Regions from separate parts of the Homo sapiens genome. Here region 2 is linked to region 1. The links come from fine-mapping of genetic effects on gene expression. A gene starts in region 1. The other region holds a variant in brackets. All regions are shown on one strand. Distances are from middle to middle.

The links. PIP is the estimated chance that this variant, and not a neighbour inherited with it, causes the effect.
Region 2: its variant is fine-mapped to the expression of NKX6-3 in whole blood (TOPMed, PIP 0.91).

Annotation. Positions count from the first base shown.
Region 1 is chr8:41,647,422-41,655,725 of GRCh38, forward strand. It overlaps NKX6-3 (NK6 homeobox 3), which reads right to left and starts at 3,396. Exons shown (of 3, transcript NM_001364841.2): 1 at 2,690-3,396; 2 at 645-814. The coding sequence starts at 3,071. It overlaps ANK1 (ankyrin 1), which reads right to left. Exons shown (of 43, transcript NM_000037.4): 43 at 5,804-8,304. RefSeq lists an enhancer at 5,913-6,706 and silencers at 6,234-6,283, 6,304-6,373, 6,394-6,733.
Region 2 is chr8:41,619,737-41,628,058 of GRCh38, forward strand. GPAT4 (glycerol-3-phosphate acyltransferase 4) reads left to right here. Exons shown (of 13, transcript NM_178819.4): 13 at 1,157-5,265. The coding sequence ends at 1,265. Among named protein-coding and RNA genes, the nearest start is that of NKX6-3, 27 kb to the right of the region's middle. RefSeq lists an enhancer at 3,265-3,364. The variant G/A (reference allele first, on the strand shown) is at 3,254.

The DNA of each region.
Region 1 (8,304 bases):
GCGGTAGAAACCGGTTTCCCCGGGTCTATTTAGGGGGCATTTGGGGCCCCTGCGTGTGGAGTGGGAGAGCCTGGGCTCACCCTCCCTAGCCCTGGCGTGGGCGACAAGGCTCCAGGCCCCTGAAGCCCATCTGATCCTGCTTAGTAGAAGGAGACGTTGTCTTCATCTTAAGGATTGGTAAACTGAGGTCAGCTCCTTTTGCTGACTGGAGCATCAAGCATGAATCTGGGCCAGAGACTGCCGACCGTGCTTGGAATTTTTGGCCAAATACGGGGGGAGAGGGAAAGCCTCAGGTTGGAGTCCCCCACATCTGGGGTTGAACCCCAGCTCTGCCAGCTCTCCCAGCTCTCCCAGCCGGGAGACACTGATCTTCATCTGCGAAATGGGTGATGATACCGACCCCCCGGGTTGCTGAGAGGATGAAATGAGGTGCCGCACATAAGGCTCTGAGAATGGGGCTCAGCCTTTCCCGGCTATGGTTAATTACCACAGGCTCCAGGGTTAGGCAGGCAGGCAGTGCCCAGACACCAGGACAGCTGCCCTCTGGGGGGCTGCGTTGTGTGGCCACCTCTCTCCAACGCAGTGGCCTCCTGTCCGGCAGGCTCCTCCCTGCAGGGCAGGTGCCATCTCCCGCACAGACTTACCTTGACCTGCGACTCGGTCATGCCCAGTGAGTATGCCAGCCGTGCCCTCTCGGGGCCAGCCAAGTACTTGGTCTGCTCAAAGGTTTTCTCCAGGGCAAAGATCTGGTGCCCCGTGAAGGTGGGCCGGGTGTGCTTCTTCTTGTGTATGCTGTCACTCAGGGGGTCTGGGGCTGGCAGGAGGAAGGAAGTGTGGGGTTAGTAGAATAAGTGGGGACCCTGCGGCTAGGCACGTCTGGCAGGGCAACCACCATGCCTGCCCCTCTCCCTCCTGCAGAGGTTTCCAGGACACCAAGATTCCTTTCCCCTGAGCAGCATTCTTGATATTGGGGAACAGTGACTGTGACCTCTGCCCCGCCTGGATGGGCAGGGCTCCGAGAGGGCAGCTGCCCTAGTGTAATGGGACTTAGGGGCAGCAGAGCCTCATGCCTCTCTGTCTAAAGTTCTCAATACTCGCTGATGTTGCCTTCCCCTGAGGGGCAACAGGAGTTCCCTCTCTGTCCCAGGGATGTCCCTTCAGGTCACCCTCCTCCTATAATTAGGGACCAGGGCCTGTGAATTCCCTCCACCCCCGGCTTCCGCCAACTTCCTTGCTCTTGAGACTCAACTTCCCAGGTCTCCAGGAAACCAGGGAGGGGCAAACCTGACGCCCCAAGCTGCCACTTCCCCATGTCACCAGGCCTGGAAGTTATGTGGCTTCAACCACCCTGGAGAGCCTGGCACAGAGGCCAGAGACCCTGACCCCCAGCCTGGCCAGGGCAGCAGGCTCGGGAAGGAGCTGTGGGCAGTGGTTCCCACATGTCAGGCCTCGTTCTGTGCAGTCTGACAGCTCAAGTTACAGGTGAGGAAACTGAGGCACAGAGAGAGGAAGAGCCCTCCTGAGAGATCATGTTCAAGTCTCTCTGCCTTTGCCTTCATTAGCCACTGACTTTCTTGGCTATGTCCCTGTGTGTGTACCTGCATTCAGGACTGAAGAGGTGGTGTGTGGGATGTGGAGAGGGGAGGGGGAGATGGAGGGAAGAGAGAGTCAGCTGAGGCTTAAAGCACCCCTGAAGCCAAGCCTAAAACAGGATCTGAGAGAGGAGGCCTTCACCCCCAGGGGCACAGCGATGGGTGGCAGCCCATGGAGGGGTGGCTGTCAGGCACTGTGACCGGCAAGGCAGAGTAGCAAATGGGGGGACAGGTGTGCTTTTGGGGTTCCCTAGGTTGGCCCCAAGCCCCCATTGGCGTAGGAGAGCCCGGAGATCAGACAGAAATGGAGGCCCCTGCCTGACGTGGGCAGGGCTTCGGTGGCACGGAGAAGATTCCAAAAACTCTCACCTCCCTGCCTCCCAGCAGAGCCTCACCTGCCCTGCCACCTCCTCCAGTAACCCTGACTGGCATCACGGGCCCACCCTCTGAAAACCTTGGCTGAGGGATGGGTCGGCTGAGAAGAGGCCCCCTGCTTCCCCACAGCCAAGGCCAAGTTCAGCTGGACTCAGCAGCAACTCCCCGAGACAGGCTACTTGGTGTGGCTGCTGTTGCTAGAAACCCGAGGATGTGGTGGGCAACAGCCCCCTGGCTCAAAGGCTGGACCCGGATGGGGTCAGGGTGCGTTCTGCACCCTTGAGTGATGCCAGGGCTCTCTGGGAAGGTGAGCTAGGACATTTTCCTCACGGGGGTAGCATTTGCCTGCTTTGGGTGAAGAAGTGGTTGCATGGGCCCTGGGCTGCAGAAGCCAGCTGGGCTGCCTACTGGACCTCGTGCAGGGCAGGCGTGGGCTGTGGGGCCTTCTCTACATCTGGAACTGCCGGGGGCCCTAGGAGGGCAGCTGAGGTGGCTGGCATGTGAGGGGGGTGGCTCAGACACCTGTGTCCAAGCACTGCTGGATGGGAAGGAGGAGAGGGTGGAACTCAGCCTGCACTGAGCTGAGGCTACGAGTCCAGGGGTTAATGGCGACTGGGGGAGAGGGCGGAGGTGCAGGGTGCCCGGGAGGAGGCCCCTCCTCGTCCTCTGCCCCCCGGGGCCTGGCGGGTGCCGGGAGGTGGCTGGGGAGGACCCGTACTCACTGTTGCTGCACTGCCGCCCGCCTCGCCAGTCTTGGCCCGTGTCCGCCCAGCAGTTCCGGGTCCGGGTCGGGTACTCGTTCCCAGCCTTGGAAAAATTCCCTACCTGGGGGCTGTAGTAGACCCCCTGCGAGCTGAGCCCCCCAAAGCCTGCCACGTGGGGGTAGCCGGAGAGGAGGCTGTTGTTCGGCGCAGCCACGGGCCTGCTCAGGATGTCCGTGATCCCGTGGGGGGTTCCGGCGGCCAGCTGGGGGCCCAGCCCTGGGGGGCTGAGCTTGTAGAAGGAGTTCTGCACAGAGTACTGGCACACCGGGGCCTTCATCTCCGGAAACTGAGCCAGCGGCGTGTTGTTCAGCAGGAACGTCCCCTGCAGGTTGGACTCCATGATCTCCCAGTCAGGACAGGGAAGGCTTCTCCAGGCCCCTAAAACCCAAGAGCCCACTCTCTAGCCCCAAATCTCATGGCAGGCCTGGAGGCTTAGGACCGTCTCCGAGCTCCTGACTGCCTCCCACCTAAGGCATGGGCCAGGCCCTGGCCCAGGAACCGGCACCCGATCAGCTGCTCGGAAGTCAGGTGCTCGGGGCAGGTGGGAGGCCTCCCCAGGGCTCCTGGCCTCTCTCCTTGCCCTGGCCGGACAGGGTGGCCCCCTAAGCCTCAGCTCAGACCCCCTTTCTGCCTCTGAGTCGGGGGACCCTCCATGAGAAGTTTTAAGTTCAGAGAAGGAACATTTCCCTGATAAAGATACGGCCCATTAGAATACAGGCCGGAGACTGGCTGAGCCGCCGGAGCCGCGCCGCCATTGGTCGGGGCGCACACGGGCCTCACATTGGCTTTTCCTAGACAAATTGCACTTTGAAAGATTGACTGTACAATCAGCCAGGGTGTGTGTGTGTGTGTGTGCGCGCGCGCGCGCGCGCGCGCGTGTGTGTGTGTGTGTATGCGCGCGCGCGCGAGAGAGAGACAGAGAATTAGCTCTAGAAGCCCTACTCATCGCCGGAGGGTCCATTTGCTCCCCGCAAGTCTAGCATCTAGGAAAAGGTGAGCGTCTGGGGGCCCCTGGAGGCTCCCAAGGCAATTGGAAGTCACTGTTCCTACAGCTGCTCCCCTAGGGAAGAGGAGGCTGGACTCAGAGGCCACTGTCCGGAGCTGCGCCGGCCCCTTTATGTGCACATGTCCAAGCTCCACAGGAGAACGCAGCCGCTTCCTTCCCTTCCGCATGCGGGGATGGGGTAAGTGGCATAAGATGGGGGTAAGTGCGGGGATGGGGTAAGAGGCTGAGTGGCATTGCTTTCTGGGGGATGCAAGTCCCTGTGGCTGGCTTGAGAGCCTAGGGTGGGAGCCTGCTGGGAAGAGGGCAGCGCGGGGCGTAGGCAGCCCTGACAGTGCCGGGGTGTGAGTCCTCCAACTGCAGGAGGCTGAAGAGAGGGCCGCCCTGCACGCATGTTCTTGCCTCCACCTCTGGTCGGCCTTCCGTGACCTCCCTATCAGAATCTCTTCCTCATTTGTGCCTCTGCTGGAGCAATGGCCATGCTCTGTCTGGCGTGGTGCCCGGGTTTGAAATCCCTGATGGCTGAGAGGGTGGTGGAGCCCCGTGCCGGGCACTCCGTCGGTGCTCAGTTAGTAGTTGATGCAGTGGACTGGGCTGAATCACAGAACATGCATATGCTTTTTTTTTTCTCGAATAAATTTTTACAACATACAAGGCTCTATTGGGGGAAGCTCTCATTTTACAAACAGGAAAACCAAGGTATAGAGGAATTGGAGCCCACTTTCCAGGTACATGGGTGATTTCTGGACCAGGCAGGATTCTTCCCTGCAGTTTTTCTCTAAAACTGGAAACTAGCATGCCACTGGCCTGAACATGTAAAATGCTAGGAAAGACTGTGACTGCCAGACAGATGGACTTCTGCTCCTCTCTGTGCCTGGTGGCCCCAGAGCCCTTCCTGACCAGGCGTGGGCTCTGCAGGGCTTGCTCTCTCACTCCCCAGAGGCCGCCCTGGTAGGTGGGAGACTAGAGGCACTGCTTCACTGAGCTTCTCCTGGGTTTCCAGGCCGTCTTGGTTTTCAGTGGGGAGCAGAGGACCCAAGGCTCAGGGCAGGATTCCTTCTCATGCAGAAGTTGACCCTCTGTAGCACAGGGATTTAGGTTATGCAAGAAAGATCTCACAAAGGGTGTGGAATGATTCCCTACAAATTTGGTTTAAAGAGAAAAGAGCTACGTCTTCGTCTGAGATGGCTTTGCCACCAGGTCGCGTGCCACAGCCATCTGGTAGACCTGGTTCTGGTTCCCGGTGTCACCACCCAATTCCCCCCAGGCAACTGTGATTCTGAAACTGCATTTTTAAAAGCCCCATGGGTGCTGCAGATGACCTGCTGCGGTTGCCCACTGGCCTGAACGGCCTGTCCGATTCCAGGAGAGAGGCTGGGAGTGGGGTGGGGCTGGGGTGCTCCAGGGGCCTTGGGATTGTGACTCCGTCATCCCCTCATGATGGGAATTTATGTGGCAGGAAAGCCGCAGCCAATGATTTGATTCTTAATTAATGCCAAGCCTGACAAAGGCGTTGGTGTCTGGCGCCCCTAGGATGAGAAACTGAAGAGACTTTAGCAACCACCTAATCCATTCTCCCATTAGAGAGATGAGGAAACTGAGGTCAGCTTGGTGACCAGCCTTGCAGGAAGTGTTAGCAACTAGTTAGGAATAGGGCAATTTTTTCCCTACAGCAAGAACAAGTTCTTGAACTTTGAATGGCATTGAGTACTGGGGCCAGATGCCTTCCTAGGGAATGCTGGGGGGCCCCCTCAGTGCATGCCAGCTGGGGGCCTGGCCAAGAACCCTGGTGGGTTGTGGTGGCCCCTCCCCAGACCCCCAACTTCTCCCCATCTCATGGGAGCCATCAGGTGGAACAGAAAGCTACTCTGCCACCTCTCTGGAGGCATCTCTCAGGTGGGTGGTCCTGATTAAAGGGTTGTCCAGGCTTCTGGGAGGACTGGGCATTGGCGGGCTCTCTGGGACCTGAGCCCCACCCATAGACTCCTTCACATCACAACCCAGGCTTTACGCTGGCCTCAGCACCCCTAACCCCCCAAAGACGAGCGGGAAGGAGAGATAGAGCCCTGTGCCATTAGTCCATTTCTTTATTAATTTTGACATTGGTTCGGCTGGTGAAGGGAGAATGGTCTATACATCAGAGTAGGGTAGGGGATTCTCTCCCATAACAGAGCATGTGGGAGAGTCAAGAAAAGATCCATTTTCATAACAATTAAAAAAATCAAGGTAATTTCAAAACTTCTAAAAAGCGTCTAATGTGCAGACTGCAGCATTCTCTAGGCATCGTGTGGAGACCCCAAACTCCTCCCCTAACGGCTCCTACTAGCAGCCGGAGCGTGCAGCCATGCCAGCCGGAGCAGAGGTGCCAAAGCGGAGTCTGGAGCTGCGGGGTCCGCGGGGGCGCTAAGGGGGCTACTGGGTTGGCTGCAGCAGCGACCTGGGAGAGGAAGGTGCAGGATCGAGGCGGGAGAGGCGAGCCCTGAGCCCAGCTTCCTTGGGCCGTCACCGAATCGGTCCCAGCCGCGCTGTGCGGCCCCCCTGCCGTGGCCCCCGGGATGGGGGAGGATGGAGGGGGGCGCCTCTGCGCCCTGGAGGCCGGGCCGGGGTGGCCTCTGGCGGAGACGGCAGCCGTCCGGGCTCGCCCTGCAGCTCCTCCGACGCAGCCTCGGGGAAACTCAGGCCCGGAGCTAGAGCTTCCTCTCCCTGCCCGCCCCTCTAAAGGAAGCAAAAGCAGCCCCACCCCCGGCCGACAAGGCGCCTAGGCCGCCCCGGGGCCTGCCTGGCCGGGGGTGCACCGGGGCGGATTTGTGTGGGAAGCAGGGCCCCTCTCCGCTCACAGGCCCCGCGGCCAGGGGGCCTCTGACGTGGAGGGGGCTTCTGTGCTACTTGGAAGGTTTAAGTGTGTCCCGAGGACACTCCCGCAGAGCGGCGGGGCGGACGGGGCCGGGCCGTCCACACCGCGGCTCCAGGGGCGAGAGGAGCCAGCCCTGTCTCTCTCTCCTGGCCCTGGGGGCGCCCGCCGCGAGGGCGGGGCCGGGATTGTGCTGATTCTGGCCTCCCTGGGCCGGAGGCTCTAGTGGAACTTAAGGCTCCTCCCTGATGGCACCGAGGCGAGGAACTGCCAGCTGTCTGTCTCCTTCCTGCCTTGACCCAGAGCCTGGCCCCGGCCTCTGGGCGTCCAGGCTCTCCGCCTCCGACTCTACTCTCACCGGCCATGCGGTCCGGGGAGCCCCCTGGCTCGCCTCTCCAAGAGGCCACAGGGGCTGGGCAGAGGGGAGGCACTGAGGCAGGACAGGGAACAGCCTCGAGCCTGGCACCTGCACCCAGGGTCCCCAGCCTGCAGGCTGCCTGGACTTAGAGCACCAAGTTCACTCTGGGAGACCCTGGGTGGTCCTGACTTCTAAGACCTGGCAGATACATTCACTAGCCCTACTCCTTTCCTTCCTCTTTCACTGAAAGACAGGCCACAGCTCCTTCTCCTGCAGCCGCAGAAGTCCTCAGGAGCTGCGCTGTCAGGCTCTGTACGTACTGCTAAATGTTTCTATTGGTTTGCATAGTATTTATTGTTTTTCATATACACAAGGCTGATTACTGTACAGTTTACACTTTGAACACGGACTATGATATAGTGCTTGAAGACATAGAAAACCTCTTCTCTATGGACATGCTGGTGCAATCCTGGGTCAGCCACCGGCCTGTCCCCCAACTGAGAGAGGAGACCCTTTCAGATGGGGTCCTGGCTCCCTTTGAGTCCTACAGGTAAGCCTGGGGGTCCTCGCCTCAGATTCTTAAGTCCCTAACACAAGGAACCCCGAATGCACTCTTCAAGGTAATGATTTTCCATTGGAAGATGATTCGTATTGAAATTGGCAGAGAGAGAGACAACATAAAAAATTCCAATTTATCCACAGCAGAGTCTATACAGCTTCAGAAGTCACAGTAAAATCTGTGTGTAGATTCAGTGGAGGCGAGTGGTGTGTGTGTGTGTGTGTGTGTGTCCTGAATGTCATGTAGAGCGATCTGGGAGGAGCGTCACCAGGGAGTCGAGGGGGTGTCACAAGTGGAATGGAGGTATGTGGGTTGGGGAGGGTGGGCAGATGAGGACATGGCTTAAGATTAAGGTGTTAAACTGATTTCATGCCTAGTTTTCTTTTTTTTTTTTTTCTTTCCAGGAAGCCCACATGGATTTCTGACAGATGAGGTTGGGAAAAAGTACCCTGTACGAAGTCAAAACAATTTAAAAAAAAAACCCCAAAACCAAAACCCATCCCCAGCCACAAAAAGCCCTCATTCACTTTTGCGTTCGCAGGCTCTCCTGCGCTTGTTTTCTATCCCTCTCTCTCCCCGCTTCTTGCTGCTTTTGTGTCCTGGTTCCGACAGATCAGCTGTCATTGCAAGAGGCAGGATTGAAGCCTGGAGGTCATGCGTCTACAGTCAGTCATTCATGCCAAGAGGGGACTAGCAGGAGTCCCTTACAGAGGTCATGCCGTCAGCCCAGAGGAATGTGTGCACCGCTGCGGTGGCCCTCAGGTCCAGCTCTCCTCCTGTGTGCATGGCAGAGTGTGTGGGG
Region 2 (8,322 bases), 28 kb before region 1:
ACTTAGATGGGCATTATCTATGAGAAAAGAAAGGGTAGAAATTCACATTGTAAACCCAACTGTAGAGTCTCAGGGAATAGATTGGCTCTCAGATGATGGCCTTTTAAAAAATGCTAGTGTGGATTGTGCACTCACTGTGTGCCAGTCACTGAGCTGCTGGGGCCCTGTGTGATCGTCTCTTTCGCCCTCACAGTAGCCGCAGCGCTGTAAACAGTGTTCCCATTTTGCAGATGAGAAACTGAGACTCAAATCACTTTTTTCCAAAGTCATAACATTAGCACTGGAGCTAGATTTTGAACCCACATCTCACAGACTTTTAGAGCTTGAAGGTTTAACTTCTGCCCCATGTTCCCATCTCTGAAGTTTAACAAAGACAGAGTGGCTGCTTTTAAAATCTATGCCTTTGCTATGGATTTTAAAGGGTGTAGCGGAGAGACTGAAAGCGGGCTTGGATTTTTATAAGTTGTTGAAGGTGGTGATAATTCTAGAGTGTAGGCACGGAGGGGGCCAGCAGGCAAGAGGCAATGGGACTGTAATGAAACAATCCCAAGTCTGGTGGGTTGGTTTGGGGCTGCTGCAGGGAGGCACGGGGGCAGTGAGGCTGGAACTCTGAGAGGCAGCCCCGGAGGTAAACCTCCATTCCTGACGGCACTCTTTTTTTGAGCATGGAAGAAGTCAGAACACGCGTTACCCCTTGTGTTAGCTCTCTGCATGAGTTCAGAGTATCCCTGGGTCTGAATTAAACAAATGACATTTTACAGATAGATTTTACAGATACGTTATGAGTCGATATTTCTTAAAGCATGTCTACCTTCCATAATGCCAGAATTCCTCCTTTTCCTTTGTGAGGTGAAGATGAATGTTAGAGTAGAAAGAATTGTAAACTCCTTGGTAGGTTTAAGCAGTTATCAAGTACCTTGAATGTGAGTAGTAAATTCTCACCCAAGGGCAAGGGTAGACCTTTTGAGATAGAAAGGGTGGATATTGGGATCCCGGAGCCCCAAATCCCCTGAGGTTGTCTTGGTGAGAGTGCCACGGGGTACCCTGTTTCTGGCAGGTTTTTCTTGGTGTTTGGGCAGCATGGTGCATCTCCCATGGTGTGAGCGTGGCTGGGAGCCCTCTTGGCTGTTACTACATCCAGCCTTTGTCTCTCCAGGGATGGGGGCCTGAAGAGGGAGAAGGTGAAGGACACGTTCAAGGAGGAGCAGCAGAAGCTGTACAGCAAGATGATCGTGGGGAACCACAAGGACAGGAGCCGCTCCTGAGCCTGCCTCCAGCTGGCTGGGGCCACCGTGCGGGGTGCCAACGGGCTCAGAGCTGGAGTTGCCGCCGCCGCCCCCACTGCTGTGTCCTTTCCAGACTCCAGGGCTCCCCGGGCTGCTCTGGATCCCAGGACTCCGGCTTTCGCCGAGCCGCAGCGGGATCCCTGTGCACCCGGCGCAGCCTACCCTTGGTGGTCTAAACGGATGCTGCTGGGTGTTGCGACCCAGGACGAGATGCCTTGTTTCTTTTACAATAAGTCGTTGGAGGAATGCCATTAAAGTGAACTCCCCACCTTTGCACGCTGTGCGGGCTGAGTGGTTGGGGAGATGTGGCCATGGTCTTGTGCTAGAGATGGCGGTACAAGAGTCTGTTATGCAAGCCCGTGTGCCAGGGATGTGCTGGGGGCGGCCACCCGCTCTCCAGGAAAGGCACAGCTGAGGCACTGTGGCTGGCTTCGGCCTCAACATCGCCCCCAGCCTTGGAGCTCTGCAGACATGATAGGAAGGAAACTGTCATCTGCAGGGGCTTTCAGCAAAATGAAGGGTTAGATTTTTATGCTGCTGCTGATGGGGTTACTAAAGGGAGGGGAAGAGGCCAGGTGGGCCGCTGACTGGGCCATGGGGAGAACGTGTGTTCGTACTCCAGGCTAACCCTGAACTCCCCATGTGATGCGCGCTTTGTTGAATGTGTGTCTCGGTTTCCCCATCTGTAATATGAGTCGGGGGGAATGGTGGTGATTCCTACCTCACAGGGCTGTTGTGGGGATTAAAGTGCTGCGGGTGAGTGAAGGACACATCACGTTCAGTGTTTCAAGTACAGGCCCACAAAACGGGGCACGGCAGGCCTGAGCTCAGAGCTGCTGCACTGGGCTTTGGATTTGTTCTTGTGAGTAAATAAAACTGGCTGGTGAATGAACTGGGGGACTTCTCCCTTTACTTTCTCCCCTGGCTGTGGCCCTGAGTAGCAGGCTTCTCGTGAGGATTCCCGTTCTCTTCTGGGAGCATGGCCCTGGGGCTGCGGAGAAGCCAACTGACTGCTGGAGCGAGGAACCCTGCAGCTCAGAAGGTGAACAGCTCGTCTCAGATGCTTGCAGATCTTTGGTTAATTTAGAATTTCCAGCACAGACGTGGATTTCTCCAGAGACGGGGTGTGTGCGGGTCGCTGATGTGAGGCCTAGGGGAAGCAATGAGTAAACTCCAGGGTGGGGGAGGAGCAAGGGCCCGGGGAGGGCTGCAGAGGGGCCGGGGCGGGGCAGGGCCTGTGCTGCATGGTGGCTTCTGCAGGGGAGGGACAGGGGAGGGCTGCAGAGGGGCAGGGTGGGCAGGGCATGTGCTGCATGGCAGCTTCTGCACAGCCAGAGCAGGCACCACAGGAAAAGAGTCGGCCACTGGTGCCTGCTGTACAGTCACAGTGGAGGCAGAGCCAAGGCCAAGCAGCCCCTGTGGGTTCTGGGGTTTCACCAGTTTCATGCTCCTCAGCTCCCCATTCATGCCCCACCAGCCCTCACTTGGGACCCATGCTCCCTCGTGGCACAGTCATGATGCCTCTCAGGATTTTGTGCCTGTGGTGCTGAGTGTCACGTCCCCAAGGTCGCCCTCTGGCCTGCAGTTCAGGGAGTGGGTGGGAGTGAAGCTGTGCTCCTGGGGCTGCAGACAGATCCACTTTGCATGTGGTACCTGCTGGGTTGGCCCTGCAATCTCCTTTTCTCTGCACCTACCTGTGACCTCCCTGGGAGAGCCTCCCATTTCCTCACCTGCCCTGTTGCCAGCCCGGGGGAAATCTTTTTGCTCTCAAATGAAGACTGAAAAAATAAAGTCAGTGTTATGACTAATAAGTCTCTTAGGAACTGTTTTACAAAATGCTTAAGAATAAAAAGTGATTTTCAGCTTTTATAGGTGATGTTTACAGTGTTTGTAAACCAACTGGAGGGATCAGTAATTGGTCTTAAAAGATCAGGTTCTCTTTTAAAAAGTTCATCTGAAACTTTATG[G/A]TTTGTTACTTTCGTGATTTGCATAGGTATTTATATATACACACACACACAGGTTTTGCTTTTGTCTCACATTCAGCACAGCTGTCTGCGGCCCCTGCCGGCAGGTGTGGCCGCACCTGGTGTGAAGTCACGTGGAGTCAGTGCTGTGGAGGGAAGTCCTGTGCGGGCCGGGCAGTGAGGAGAGCACTGATTCACGCCTGCAGAAACGTAACCTCCCCTTTCCGTGTATGCCTTTTACCATCATCCAGGCGACTGCTCCATCCTTTTAAATTAGGGGTCCTGCAAGCCCCAAGTGACCCATAGTCAGAGTATCTGGTTTGGGGTAACCGAGTTGGTCTTATGGGGCAAAAACTCAAGACACTTAGAAACATGCAAAGTACAAAATAATGTGTTCCCTCCTGTTACCCCAGCAAGGGTGGGGCTGAGCTGGGAATGACACCCAGTGGTGTAATGAGTGGAAAGTGCTGGTCAGCTGCTAACCCCCCTCCAAGCCTGCTGCACCTTCACTTCTCTGCATCCGTCTCCTGAGTCATAACTAGGGACTTGGCTAGATGACCTCAGAGACCTCGTCCACCTCTGAATTCTCTGTTTTTAAGCCCATAGTTCAAACTTTGGCTTTGATCTCTGAAGTCTTCTGGGTTTGGAAATACGGGAAGTCAGCTTTGAATCCATTGCTTCTCTAAAACATCAGGGCTAGTGGAACTAACCCACTTGAGGGTGACCTCAAGGGCTTTAGGCAGCCATGGGGCTGGGGCCATACTGCTCTCAGGCTGGGCAGTATCTTCATTGTGGTTCTCAGACAGCCTTTTTTACTCAAACATGAGACTTTCCACCCACCAGTTAGGGAACTTTTTTTTTTTTTTTAAACACGGAGTTTCACTCTTGTTGCCCATGCTGGAGTGCAATGGCACAATCTCAGCTCCACTGCAACCTCTACCTCCCGGGTTCAAGTGATTCTTCTGCCTCAGCCTCCAAGTAGCTGAGATTACAGGCATGCACCACCACACCCAGCTAATTTTTTGTATTTAGTAGAGACTGGGTTTCACCATGTTGGTCAGGCTGGTCTCCAACTCCTGACCTCAGGTGATCCACTCTCCTTGGCCTCCCAAAGTTCTGGGATTACAGGCGTGAGCCACTGCGCCCAGCCAAGAGGGAACTTTTTAATAAAGCTAGTGGGATTCCCTTGACAGCAGAACCAGCCTTGGGACTTGATGCTTCACCGTGTCAGAATCCGTCCCTGGTGCTGCCTTTCAGAGAAGAGGCTTGATGTGTGAGGGGTCAGGGGGAGTGCTCCAGATCCCTGAAATGCCCTTCCCAGACCAGTGACAGGCATTTTTGGGTGCCATCGTGTGACCTTCACGGCACAGCAAACAGTGGGCACTAACCCTGTTGTCCTGTGGAAATCTGGGTCTCTGAATCCTGCCATTTCCTTCCTGGAATTGGCCAGGAACTTGATTTTCTGGGCTATTGCTTGCTAGTGTCCCCTGATGCATGAAGGATCCCCCCATGTCATAGGTCCCACCTGCCTGCTGTGCATCCCGGGTGGCCAGACTCGGCTTCTCCAGGTGCACTTGTCCCAGGTGGCCCGGTCCGTAGGCTGGAAGGGCAGCTGCAGGTGCACTGCCTCGCGGACAGGTTAGGATATGGCCACGCAGCCATCCATCTTCTACAGCACGCACACCCCACTCTCTCCCCCAGTCAATATGTCTCTCTCCGATGGGAAAGTTAATAAATTTTGCTCTAGATTAAAAGTATTGATCATTTCATTTGTAAACGATAAATAAAAAGGGGGAACTTTTCATTGCGCCAGGGGTGGCACCTGGCGTGTGTTGCGGGGGTGATTGCGCTGGCTGCCGGGGGGTGGGCTTCTCATATGCATTCTGGCCGGCCAGCTGCATTGATTTCCTATTAGTCTCCCAGCACCACCCAGTAACACATCATTTCAGTACCTGCTATTAATGGTCTTTTGATAAATAATCACTTGTAAGTCAATAAATTTTTATTAAACAGTGTGGCTCTTTGATTTATTAAAATCCGACCGTGTTTGTCTGGGAGAAAAGGGATGCCGAATTGAAGTGGAGGTTTTCATACATCTTCCTGACGCGGAGCAGTCACCACACACTCCAGAGAAAAACAATTGCATTTTAACAGAAACAAAACGGCCGAGTTTGGAACTTGGGCCCAGGCAAACTTTATCTCCGTCAGCCTGAGGCTTACTCTGCAGGGATCAGCTGCAGGCTGGAGGGCGCCGAGTTGAGAACTTTGTGTTGGCCTCCAAGAGTGCCCAGGTGCCAGGGCTGGATGCCTCTGCTGGGCTGCGTTCTGAGATGGCACGTACCGGCCCTCTCCCAGCTGGGGATGCACCCTGGGGCAGGCACCCTTTGTCAGCAGACATCTGTCATCAACAAGAGAAGCTCGTGTGGCAGGACCCTTTAGCTTCCTTCCTGGCCAAATCGCCACCAGAGTCACCTGTGGCAGGAAGATGTGGCAGGAGACAGTCTTTTGCAGCAATCGGGCTGTGTGGATTATTTCTTACAGTGTGGGCCAATAGCTGAAGACTGGAAATGCCTTTTTGTGAGATTTTCATTGGCATAGAGTTTGCTGTAAAGAGTTTGGCACTTTATCGAGACAAATATGGCCCCAAACAGATGGTCTTACATAGATCAACCCAACCACTGACGATACAACCAGAATTCTTACCCAGGGGAAGTTGTAGGAAAGGGAAAACACTTTTTTTTTTATTGATCATTCTTGGGTGTTTCTTGCAGAGGGGGATTTGGCAGGGTCATAGGACAATAGTGGAGGGAAGGTCAGCAGATAAACAAGTGAACGAAGGTCTCTGGTTTTCCTAGGCAGAGGACCCTGCGGCCTTCCGCAGTGTTTGTGTCCCTGGGTACTTGAGATTAGGGAGTGGTGATGACTCTTAATGAGCATGCTGCCTTCGAGCATCTGTTTAACAAAGCACATCTTGCACTGCCCTTAATCCATTTAACCCTGAGTGGACACAGCACATGTTTCAGGGAGCACAGGGTTGGGGGTAAGGTCACAGATCAACAGGATCCCAAGGCAGAAGAATTTTTCTTAGTACAGAACAAAATGAAAAGTCTCCCATGTCTACTTCTTTCTACACAGACACGGCAACCATCCGATTTCTCAATCTTTTCCCCACCTTTCCCCCCTTTCTATTCCACAAAACCGCCATTGTCATCCTGGCCCGTTCTCAATGAGCTGTTGGGTACACCTCCCAGACGGGGTGGTGGCCGGGCAGAGGGGCTCCTCACTTCCCAGTAGGGGCGGCCAGGCAGAGGCGCCCCTCACCTCCTGGACGGGGCGGCTGGCCGGGCGGGGGGCTGACCCCCCCACCTCCCTCCCGGACGGGGCGGCTGGCCGGGCGGGGGGCTGACCCCCCCCAACCTCCCTCCCGGACGGGGCGGCTGGCCGGGCGGGGGGCTGACCCCCCCCCCAACCTCCCTCCCGGACGGGGTGGCTGCCGGGCGGAGGGGCTCCTCACTTCTCAGACGGGGCGGTTGCCAGGCAGAGGGTCTCCTCACTTCTCAGACGGGGCGGCCGGGCAGAGACGCTCCTCACCTCCCAGACGGGGTCGCGGCCGGGCAGAGGCGCTCCTCACATCCCAGACGGGGCGGTGGGGCAGAGGCACTCCCCACATCTCAGACGATGGGCGGCCGGGCAGAGACGCTCCTCACTTCCTAGATGTGATGGCGGCCGGGAAGAGGTGCTCCTCACTTCCTAGATGGGATGGCGGCTGGGCAGAGACGCTCCTCACTTTCCAGACTGGGCAGCCAGGCAGAGGGGCTCCTCACATCCCAGACGATGGGCAGCCAGGCAGAGACGCTCCTCACTTCCCAGACGGGTTGGCAGCCGGGCAGAGGCTGCAATCTCGGCACTTTGGGAGGCCAAGGCAGGCGGCTGGGAGGTGGAGGTTGTAGCGAGCCGAGATCACGCCACTGCACTCCAGCCTGGGCACCATTGAGCACTGAGTGAACGAGACTCCGTCTGCAATCCCGGCACCTCGGGAGGCCGAGGCTGGCGGATCACTCGCGGTTAGGAGCTGGAGACCGGCCCGGCCAACACAGCGAAATCCCGTCTCCACCAAAAAAATACGAAAACCAGTCAGGTGTGGTGGTGCGTGCCTGCAATCGCAGGCACTCGGCAGGCTGAGGCAGGAGAATCAGGCAGGGAGGTTGCAGTGAGCCGAGATGGCAGCAGTACAGTCCAGCTTTGGCTCGGCATCAGAGGGAGACCGTAGAAAGAGAGGGAGAGGGAGACCGTGGGGAGAGGGAGAGGGAGAGGGAGAGGGGGAGCGGGAGGGGGAAAACACTTTCTAGTGTTTCTAGTAAACGTTTTTATTAAAGCAAATAGTTGGAACACCTTCTTCTTGACCCTCCCTCGTCCAGGCTGCTGCTGCGGACTTCCCATTCATGCTTAGTGTGGCAGGTAGGAACACACAAGGGCTTTTGACAGCAGGACTCTCAGTAAGAAGTGTGGCTGCAGGCCCTAGTGCGCTCCAACCTACTGCAGGCCTTCTCTGGGGTTGTTAGGATTTCCTTCTCTCTCCTGGTCTCAGGGGACCTTGAAGGCGGTTAGGAAGCTGGACGGCAGAAAACAAACAGGTATGAATGTCCCGCAGAGCAGGCAAATGCTAGTAGAGTGGTTTTCAGGAGTGTGGTCCAGGCTGTGCCCATGTGCAGGAGGCTGGTCAAGGACCTAGTTTCTCTTCCAAGGACTTCCAGCCCCGCCCCCAGGAATGTGCCAGGCTGGCCAGCGAAGCCGGAGGACACCATGGTTGTGGATTCCCAGCACACGGGGAACTGTAGGAGCACCTGGCATTTTACACATAGAGACTTCAAGTCCACTTTCAGGGTTAAGCAGGACACTTCTGAAACGCTTCACTGGGGGCTTCCCTCTAGCCTGCGCTGGCTCCCCGACACCTCACTTCCTGTGCCCACACCCATCCCACTGCACTGTTAGGAGCACTTTGCTGGGGAGGCTGAAGAACCATCTCAGGCTTTCTCGTACTCCATGAGGTTACTTCCTATGCAGGAGTCAAA